2 separate regions of the Homo sapiens genome follow, and region 2 is linked to region 1. Evidence: fine-mapped expression QTL. Tissue or cell type: whole blood. Region 1 holds a variant in brackets; the other region holds the start of a gene. All regions are shown on one strand. Distances are between the middles of the regions.

Evidence for each region. PIP is the estimated chance that this variant, and not a neighbour inherited with it, causes the effect.
Region 2: it holds the start of IL1R1, and the variant in region 1 is fine-mapped to the expression of IL1R1 in whole blood (TOPMed, PIP above 0.99).

The regions. Positions count from the first base shown.
Region 1 is chr2:102,026,062-102,031,242 of GRCh38, forward strand. IL1R2 (interleukin 1 receptor type 2) reads left to right here. Exons shown (of 9, transcript NM_004633.4): 8 at 50-192; 9 at 2,165-2,483. The coding sequence ends at 2,331. Among named protein-coding and RNA genes, the nearest start is that of IL1R2, 37 kb to the left of the region's middle. The variant G/A (reference allele first, on the strand shown) is at 2,367.
Region 2 is chr2:102,140,551-102,145,550 of GRCh38, forward strand. IL1R1 (interleukin 1 receptor type 1) reads left to right here and starts at 2,196. Exons shown (of 12, transcript NM_000877.4): 1 at 2,196-2,470. RefSeq lists enhancers at 3,059-3,353, 3,119-3,413.

The sequences.
Region 1 (5,181 bases):
AGCTTGCATTCGATACAATCATAATTAAGTGAATGTTTTTTTAACTCAGGGAATATTCAGAAAATAATGAGAACTACATTGAAGTGCCATTGATTTTTGATCCTGTCACAAGAGAGGATTTGCACATGGATTTTAAATGTGTTGTCCATAATACCCTGAGTTTTCAGACACTACGCACCACAGTCAAGGAAGGTATGTATGTATTTTGGGGAGCACTATAGGAGAATATAACATGTTGAATGTTCCATGGATACTAGACAAATCTACTTGTTCTCCAAATGATTCCATAGAAATTCCCTTGCATTGTCTGCTAGTGGAGAGCTGAAAAGAAACCTCCCATTTTTAAAGAGTTTTGGTAGGGTGGAGGCTGGACTTTGGGAGATTATACTCAAATGAAAAATTTAAATAGCAAGCTGATTTTTGGAAAATGGATGAAATGGTTCTACAGTAAACTTCGAAATACTCTGTCTGCATGTGGCTCTGCCTTGGGTCACTAATCAGCTGTCTTCGCATGGCCTCTAGAAGAGGGTGGATTGTTCTTTATCCTGAAGATGAGAAACTTCATCCTCTAAGAGCTGGGGATTGGGAGCTACCCAGGGTTCAGGGCAGCTTTAGGGTCAAAGTCATTATATGACCGGAAATAGGTACAAGGCTACAGCCAAATCAACCCAGTGTTCATTTAAGGACATTTAAAAAGAAGAAGAGGAAAACCCACATTATCATTTTTGATTAAATTGATTTCATATCAATGTTTAATTGTTGAGCAGGAGGGAGAGCTGCCTTGAATGTAGTCTCTGTTGACAGCCTGTAGCTAATGGCAGGCAAGCCAAAGTGATTCCCAGCATCTCAGTGATGGCTCGTGGACAATCTTACAGCAATAACATAAATACAAATTGCTCCAGGTCTCCATGTTTTGCTGGGGAGGCAGCCACAAACACAGTGTAAACTGGAAAGCCAATGATGTGTTCCAGCCTCAGGACAGGGAATGGCACCCAACTTTCCTCCAACTGTGCGCTGTGCACCACCAGCCTCACACTCACCTGAGCCACTGGTCACAAACACAGATCTCAGGACTTACTCCAGATCCACCCTGTCAAATATTCCTAGGGAGAGGCTGCAGCCTGTGACACAAAAAGCTCCTTTCACAGTGAAGTTTGAGAATGAGGGCACACATGTGAAGGGTGGCGTTTCAGATCATTTCCAGATGAGCAGGCTGGGAGAGATGGTGGTTGTACACATTTACCCACAAAAATCAGAATGTTCCCTCTCGGGGTCAGATTAGTGAGCCCAAGGAACCTGTGGTTTGTCTGGCCCTGATGCTGGGAACCTTTAAAATTTTCCATAACATGAGCCTTGTCCCTGCATGTGGCTGGCCGTGACTGATCCAGGGAACACAGGCTGTAAGTCTTTCACCAGGACTGAGAGGTGTATTCAAACAGCTGCCCAGAATATTACAGCTGAACTTATTTCTAATCTTTGTGGGGTTTTAAAATGTGAGAATCCTCTGGAGCAACAGGCTGAGGTCATGTCGATTCCTGGATGACTAAACAGACTGTGATAGATAATAGCTTAAAAATGCAGGATTCTAGTCTCATCAACAATGTGTCTGATAACACTCTGTTCTCACATTTGCTTTTTAACTTTTTATTCAGAGTCTCTTCCTGTATTTCCATAACACAGAGACGCCAAGGAGCAGAACATAAAATAGCTGGACCCAAGCAATCGTGTTGGCCCCTGCAGCTCCATTATTCAAAATTTATTTTCCTTTGCTACTTCCTTTGATCCTCATGACACCCATGCTCATTAGAAAAGGGCAGATTGTTCCTGGCTCTGTCACAGTTGGCCAACTGTGACATAAACAGACAGCATCTTAAACGCACAGTGTCCCACTGTTGGAACAAAGTTAAACCCTCAGCACTTGCCCACTTACCCTACGATGTTTCTAACAGATTTTGCCCTATCACGCTCGTTTCTCTAATGCCACAGACATCACTCTCAAATATCCTCCATGTTGGTGTGAGGGATGTGCTTTCTGAAAATCAATGCACATTTATCAAGAAAAACAAACTCCAATTTCTTTCTTATCTTGTACACCTGCATTGCCCTGTCCTCTTGTACAGTGAGAGACTGTTCAGCTCCTGATGTGACTCTGTTCTTCCCACAGCCTCCTCCACGTTCTCCTGGGGCATTGTGCTGGCCCCACTTTCACTGGCCTTCTTGGTTTTGGGGGGAATATGGATGCACAGACGGTGCAAACACAGAACTGGAAAAGCAGATGGTCTGACTGTGCTATGGCCTCATCATCAAGACTTTCAATCCTATCCCAAGTGAAATAAATGGAATGAAATAATTCAAACACAAACTCC[G/A]TACGTCTTCTCTTATGGAAGTGGCTGTGTCTTTTTGAGGGACTCTGTTCTTTGCCTCAGTTGTCTACCAAAGGTGCCACATTTATAGTGGCTTTGTAGTAAAGGACTAAAGTCTTACATTCTGTTTTTTTTTTCCCTAAAAATCAGTGACAACAGTAGATGTGCCTGTGAGTGGGTGTGAGTAGCTGTCTGCTACTTGTGACCTATTTAACAGAATGAGGTGCTCTTAGGCCTGCATGAGAGTGGAAAACATCTACATGAGTTTTGACATTCATTCAACAAAAACATATTATGAGTCTATTTTGACTAGACTCTATGGGAGATGTTGTACATACAGTGATGGTTAAGACATAGTTTGCCTTTCAGGAAGCTGGTTGTTCATTTTGAGACTGAAAAGAATAATTTAGTGCTAAAGCAGAAGAATCAGCAAGAATTGGTGAACTTTTTTGGAAAGGGCTATCCAAAAAATAGCAATTAAAAATACACACATTGGAATGTATTAGTGAACTGAGAATTAGACCCAACTTCATAACAACATGTCTGAAAATAGAAGGAAGGGCATTAAAAGAATTGTAGACAAACTGAATAAAATGTACCCAGAGCCTCTTTCATATCATATACCAAAAATAAAATCCAGATAGATAAATGAGTTCAATTAAAAAAAAAAAAACTCCAATGGCAGGAAAATCAGCACGGCTGGTGACTCCACCTTTCAGGTCTCTGTTCAAATGTGACCTTCCCAGAGGGAAGGTCCCCAGAGAGGACCTTCCTTCCTCTCTGTCCCCTCACCCTGCTTTGTACCATTGTAGCTTTTATCACCACCAGACCTTCCAGTATAGATTTGCTTGTTGATTTTCAATTTATGTTTCCCACCCAAATGGAAGACCCATGAGGTCAGAGAGATTATTTTGGTCCCAGCTGTATTTCCAGTACCTCAAAGCAGGCATTTAATGAATATTTGCAGAATAAATGAAGATGGGATGAACTCTCTCTTGTTCATTACCAAAAGACTTGCAAGAGTAAAGGTGAGTAGGCTTAATTACATTATAATTTCTGCACAACAAAATAACAAAAGCAAGGTTTAGACAAAATTGTGTCAGACAAGTTCAAGGAATGAGTAACTATCATGTGTAGAGTTATTCAAAGTCATAGAAAAGGCATGTGTCTTAGTCTTTTTGGGCTGCTACAACAAAATACCATAACTAGGGTGGCTTGTAAACAACAGAAATTTATTTCTCACAGTTTTGGAGGTTGAGAAGTCCAAGATCAAGGTGCGAGCAGATTTGGTGTCTGGTGAGGGCCCACTTCCTGGCTAATAGACGGCAGCCCTCCTGACTTAATCACCTCCCAAGGGCCACAACTCCTAATACCATTGTATTGGAGGTTAGGGTTTCAACATATGAATTTTGGGAGGACACAAACATTCAGTTTATAGTAGCATCATCACCCTACAGATGAAAAAATGTGAGTAGGGGATTGCAGAAGAGACACACATAAAGGAACTCATGGAAAAATGACACTTTCAGTAAGAACCAGGGGATGTAAATTAGAGCAAATTTGAGATACCAGTGCACTCACACACTATCAAGTGTTTAAAAGTTTTTATGAAACACTCTCACACTTTAATTCAATTTATAATTTGGTGCTGGGAAGAAGAAAGGCAACATGAGCCAAGTCAGTTGGGTGCTGGACCAGCTTGCATCTTCTTGCAAGAGCCCAGGATGTGCCTCTCTTCTTGGCTCTGTTCAGTGATGTCATGTTGGTAGCTTAAAATCTGTGGCCATTGTGGAGTCTTTACACCACAGAAATTGGCAGTTGCCACAAATCAGCACTCTCTTCCCCAGTACATAACAACAAGGTTTGAGAGATGCCCAGTGATACTACTCCTGGGAATTTAGCTTAGGAAATAATTTAATAAAATAAAATCATTAGAGATATAAAATAATTTAATAAAACTTATTACCCCAATGATGAAAAATTATGCAGCAATTATCAATTATAATGATCAATACTATAATGACCAAATTATCAAAATTGTAAGACTTAAATGTTTACAGTGTTAAGGAAATATTATACATTGTTTTGTACAATTTTTATGGTTACAATATTGACATTTGTTTGCATCTAGACAAGGAGAAAACTTAAAAACTTGGACTTTGAAGGCAGACTTTGTGAGTTCAAGTTCAAGCACTGCCACATGGTGCCTCTGTGATCTTGGGCAAATCCTTTAATCTCAAAGTACATCAATTTTCTCATCTGAAAAATGGGGATAATCACTTAGTCCAAATTAACTTAGCTATTTAGCTATATTTTATATTTCCATTTTTCCTATTTTTCTATTTCAACTATAGTAACTGTTTAATAATCAAAAACATAGGAGGAATAGACAGAAATAAAAATTGTTGTACTTGGACTACGTGTTGACAAACCACAGCCTGTGGGCCAAATGCAGCCTGCCCTCTGTTTCTGTGGATTAAGAGTATTAGGAAACAGCCTTGCCTGTTTGTTTGCAGACTGTCTTTGGCCACTTTTGCTCTTTGAAGATAGAGTTGAGTAGTTGAGATGGCAAAACCTAGAATATTTACTATTTGGTCGTTTACAGGAAAAGTTTGCCAATGCCTGGTTTAGGTGAAGGCGGTTTTGAGCAGTTAACTTTTGACCCTCGCTTTTCTATTTTCCTGTTATCATCTCCTCTTTCCTTCTTCTGTTTTCTAAGCATTCAGGGAGGGAGAAGTACGGAGGGGCCGGCAGAGGCCTTTGAACACCTTATTAGATTTTAACCGGAAAGGAGAGGAGAGTGAGGTTTGAGAAGGAG
Region 2 (5,000 bases), 110 kb after region 1:
TCACTAGCATACAATGTCAGTGTAAGCAGTAGGCTTTACACTAAAGCATGTTGATGTGCTCAGAGCATTTTTGTGGTGCTGAGACCAGAGCAGATAGGGATACAGGGATGACAGTCTCCACCTTACGGAAGCCTCCTACCCAGGGGATGGAGTGAGACAGGCAGGCACACCAGTTATCCAAGGAAAGGAAATAAAGGGAAGGAGAAAGTCAGTGAAAGTGGTCAGGATGGCTGAGTGAGGGAGAAGGTGACTTGAAGGTCCCAGATAGAACAGTGGTAATAAGGTGAGAAAGAGGAGGTCTTCCAATTCCATTTCTGTGTTGGGCGGGTGTTTGAGAGTCCCACCTGGGTCTAGAGGCCTGCATGTCTAGCAGGACACTGGGTAGGAGTGGCTGAACGGGGACAACACTTAAAAAAGACAAAAATTACGGATTTTATTTCTACATGGTTGCACAAATCAATTTCACTTTCTACTTGTAAACTGCTTAAAAACCTTCATTATGAAAATGGAAGGACGAATTTATGTTCACCATCATAGTGCTTCTGGGCTGGTTCCACAGCATGGAGCCAGGCCCACCTGCTGTAGCTTTCAGAACTGCCATTTGGACACGTGGTTGAAGCAGCCTTCAGTTGGAGGATTCACAGTAATGGCATCACTGTGGGAGCTTAGAGGAACAACTGCTTGCAACCCCAGCTGCACTGGAATTACCTGGGAGCTTTAAAAACACTGCCTTTTGGGCCTCAGCCCCAGAGACTCTGACGTGACTGATCTGAACACAGGAGTGTCATGTCCTCCGGTGATTCTGAGTGGAGTCAAGGCTGTGAGACCTTCTGCTGTATAAAGGAATATTGAGAGCTGGGATTGTTAAGGAATTCTCTTAATGCTACGTCACTGGCCTCTGATGTAAGCCTGCTTTCTCGAGGAAAAGGAACCATAAAAGCTTCTGGAAACAGATTGTTTAAGAATGAGAAATTGTCATCATGCCAGGTTGCAAGACAGCTTTTAGGGCAGATGAGCTTCTGCTGCTCATTCCTTCATCTTTTCCTCCAGCCTGGATTTGTCCGGGGGCAGCTGAGGCTCAGGTTACCTCAATTCTTGAGTTTCTGAAGAGGCATATCCAGGGGTGGGTTACGAGAACAAGAGCCTGCCCAGTCTGAAAGGGATGCAGGAAGGGGCGGTGTGTACTAGAAGGAAGGAAGCTATCATCATTTATTAAAACTCTTCTTGGAGGATGGCCCATGAAGACCTCCAAACAAGCTGGAGGGGCCAGTCACTTGCTGAAGACTAGCGAAGTGGAGGGGGAAAGCCCGAGGGAGCTGCAGACTCGACCACTGCGCCCTCCCCTCCTCTCCCTGCAAGGAGCCCAAGGTGTGATCCTGCCAGGCGTTCGTTCGCTGCATGACCTTGGCCATCCTTCCATTCCCCTGGGTGTGAATTCTCATTGGCAAAGTGAGCTGGTGGGCATAAGTGGGTTTTAAGTTTAAAAATTTAAAAACCCTGTCTGCCCCCAAGTGTGGTATCAAGATTTTATAGTATGACACTTAAATTGCTTTTTTCATCCGGGCGCGTAACAGCAACAATGAAACCAGCAGATAACGCGTGAGTAGTATCAGCTCTGGGCCTGGCACTATTTTATATGTATTAGCTCATTTTTTTTAAAAAACTGTTTTCAACCACTCCATGAGATGAGTGCTCTTATGATCCCTTTTTCACAGAAGAGGAAACGGAGGTACAAAGAAATTAGTGCACAAAGCCAGTCGGAGAGAGCCCCTGGCCAGGCACCAAGCTCCAGAGGTCGCTCTGGCGAGCGTTTGCTTCGGGATCTGATGCCCTGGAGTCGCCAACTCAATTCGCGGGTCGCAGCCAGGCTCCATGGGGGTAGTAGAGCCAGGTCGTAGTGGCTAGGTGAGTTGTCTCAACTAACTCTAGTGGAGCCGCCGCAGCCCTGGAGGAGCCGGGCCGCGACTCGAGAGCGCCCGGCAGCTCTCCAATGCTTTGGAACCGGCGGGACCCCTGCGGGCTACCCGGGGCAGGGCGGTGTCCGCAGGGGTCTGTCCAGCCGCGCCTGCTCCTCCGGGTGGAGAGTTGGGACACCCGGCCAGCTCGCTCGCAGCCCGCGGACTGGCCCAGCCGAGCCGTCTCCGCCCGTTCCCCGCCCCCGCAGCGGCGGGGCTAGAGCCAGAGCCGCGCCCGGCAGTTCCCGGCCGCGAGGGCGGGCGCAGCTTGTGGCCGGCGGCCGGAGCCGACTCGGAGCGCGCGGCGCCGGCCGGGAGGAGCCGGAGAGCGGCCGGGCCGGGCGGTGGGGGCGCCGGCCTGCCCCGCGCGCCCCAGGGAGCGGCAGGAATGTGACAATCGCGCGCCCGCGCACCGAAGCACTCCTCGCTCGGCTCCTAGGGCTCTCGCCCCTCTGAGCTGAGCCGGGTTCCGCCCGGGGCTGGGATCCCATCACCCTCCACGGCCGTCCGTCCAGGTACGGGGAAGCTGGAGCATCCGGGGACTAGGTAGGGGTGAGACGGACCACAGCCTTGACACCTTCGAGTCCCCCGCTCTGCAGGACGCCGTGAGCGTCCTCCCTAAGTTGCACTTGGTTGTCAGAGTGTGTTGTGTAAGAAGGGGATGGCGGTGAGGTCTGCGTGTGTGTGTTTCTTGTGTGGAGCAAGAGTTAACGTTGTTCAGGTCGTTTGAAGGAACTTGCCAGTTGTTCTGGAGGGGGGTTCTAGGTAGGTGTGTGACTTCCCGTGTGAATGGCTTTCAGGTTTTCTATCCGGCTACGTTCTACAGGTTCAGGAGCGTCCCTCTTAGAGGTTAGGCTCAGGACCGTCAGTCTCCTTAACAAGGTAAGGGCTGAGGCCTTAACCACACTGGGGAGGGTAACTTGTTGCCCCTCCAGATAAAGGATGGTGCTAGGGAATGTAGCTACAAGCAAGTAGGCGCTGAGAAGACACTCATTATTTACAACAGTCATGCCCAGCACTTTACAGTTTATAAGCCCTTGACAGCAACTGGTCTTTTACCCTCCCTACAGTCTTGTGAGGAGGGTGCTGTCATCACCCCTGTTTTACAGCGGGGGAAGCAGAAGTTTAGGTGACCAACTTGTTGGAGGATGATGTCCTGAAGGAGGGTAAGACCTCTGCATGCAGCCCCCCTCTGTCTTCCCTCCCACTCGTCCTGCCTGCCAGGGCTTTCTCCTCTGCACTGCCGGGAGGAAGGAAGGCCGCTGGGAAGGCACGCAGATGCTGGCTCCTGCTGGGCTGTCTCTCCACTGCCTTATCTTTGGGGCAGGGTAGCTTCTCAGATGGCCACATTCCTGTGATTTAGCTTTACATTCTAGGAACTGAGGCAAGGGACACCATGAACTTGGGCTCTTGAGGTCATGGAGCAAGGGTCCATTCGTCACGGGAATGTGATGGATGTCTCAGTCGCTGCGGTTTGGTGCCAGGCTTCTGGACATTGAATGTATGAAACAGAACTCCATGACTATTGATGAGCTGAGGAAAGCCAGAGGTGGCATGGGGACGTTCACTGTCCTTTTTGCCATCCAGTTTACCAAGCGGCTATTGGCATTGTTTTCTTTCTCAATCCCTTCTAATTTATTGTGTGATATCTCATTTGATATTTCATTTAATATTCTGTATTCATATCCGATGTTAACGTTTATGCTAGACAGAAAGGTAGAGCCTTTGAGAATGGGGTTTGCTGGGGCAGGGGTGTGGAACTCTGATTTATTTTCAGTCTCTGGCTAGCTGCCAAGCTGCTGTGTGTGAAGCGTCTCCTGCACCCGTCCACTCTCATGTGGCCTCCATGCTGTTCAGGAAAGGATATTTGATCTGAATTCTCACATGACCTTGGCAGGCCCAGAGCAGCACCCCCATTTCTAATAGGCCCTGCTTGTATGTCATAATGTGACATCAAGTTTTTTTTTTATGGTTCTGAAACCTGTGACATCTTTTGAGTCAACCTCTCACCATTGTTGAAACACTGCTTAATAGTAGATTCACTAATTTATTAAAGATTTATTGACTATCTACTATGTGCCAGGCACTGTGGTGAGTGGTGGGGAGACAGCGGTGAATACGACAAGTGAAAACCTCTGTCCCCTTATGGACATGAGTCTTCTTGGTAAGACATAGGATGTCAGCAGTCTCTCTTCAAAAGGGGGGTCTTTGAAATCCGCCCCTTTGTACAAGGGTGTGGATGCACTGGCTACCTAGAGGACACCACTCAGCAGCCCCAATGGAGAGGACGAGGAGATGATGGGCACAGATGTAGCTCTGTGGTTCCCTAGAGAATCGCAGGGCTGCTATTCTCCAAGTTTGTGGTGTCCCTTGCCTCAGTTCCTAGGATGTGGAGCTCTAGGAGGTGGAGCTACACTCTGTGGCTTGGCCATGCACAGGGACCAGGGCAGATGGAAACCCTGTGGCTGGGATGCATCAGTGCGAGCTGAGTGTCCACCTGCAAGCTGGGACATTATGGAGAAGACATCTCAGTAATAAGAGAGGCAAAGCTGGACAATTGCGGTGAAACTACCATAGCATAGTGGGTGGAGAAGTACAGAGATCCTTATATTCTTATGCTACATAATGGATATACTAGGTTCTTGCCATTTTAAAAGAAGTTGTCAGGGGCACCTGTGGCTCACCTGCCATGGCACAGCTCCAGGATGCTACCCATCTGTTGCCGTGAATGGGTGCTTGGTTTGCATTTTCTTCTTCTTGAGGTTGTGAGGTGGGCTGGTGGCACAAGACAAGGATCTGCACTGTCAGCAGCCTTTTTCTCCTCTGGTTGTCTGCTGTGGGTCCAGGAAATGCTGCTGGAGCCTCCCGGCCATGCCTAGTGCAGGGAGCATGTGGGAAGCCCTGGCCCCGAGTTATCTCACCAGGTACTGAAAGGGGCTGGAGCTCTTTAAGGTCCCAGTCGCCTGCATGTTGGATTCTGTGCTGTCTCCTCTTCATGCACATCCAGGAGCTCACACATGGCGGCACGATGGAGACACCTATCAC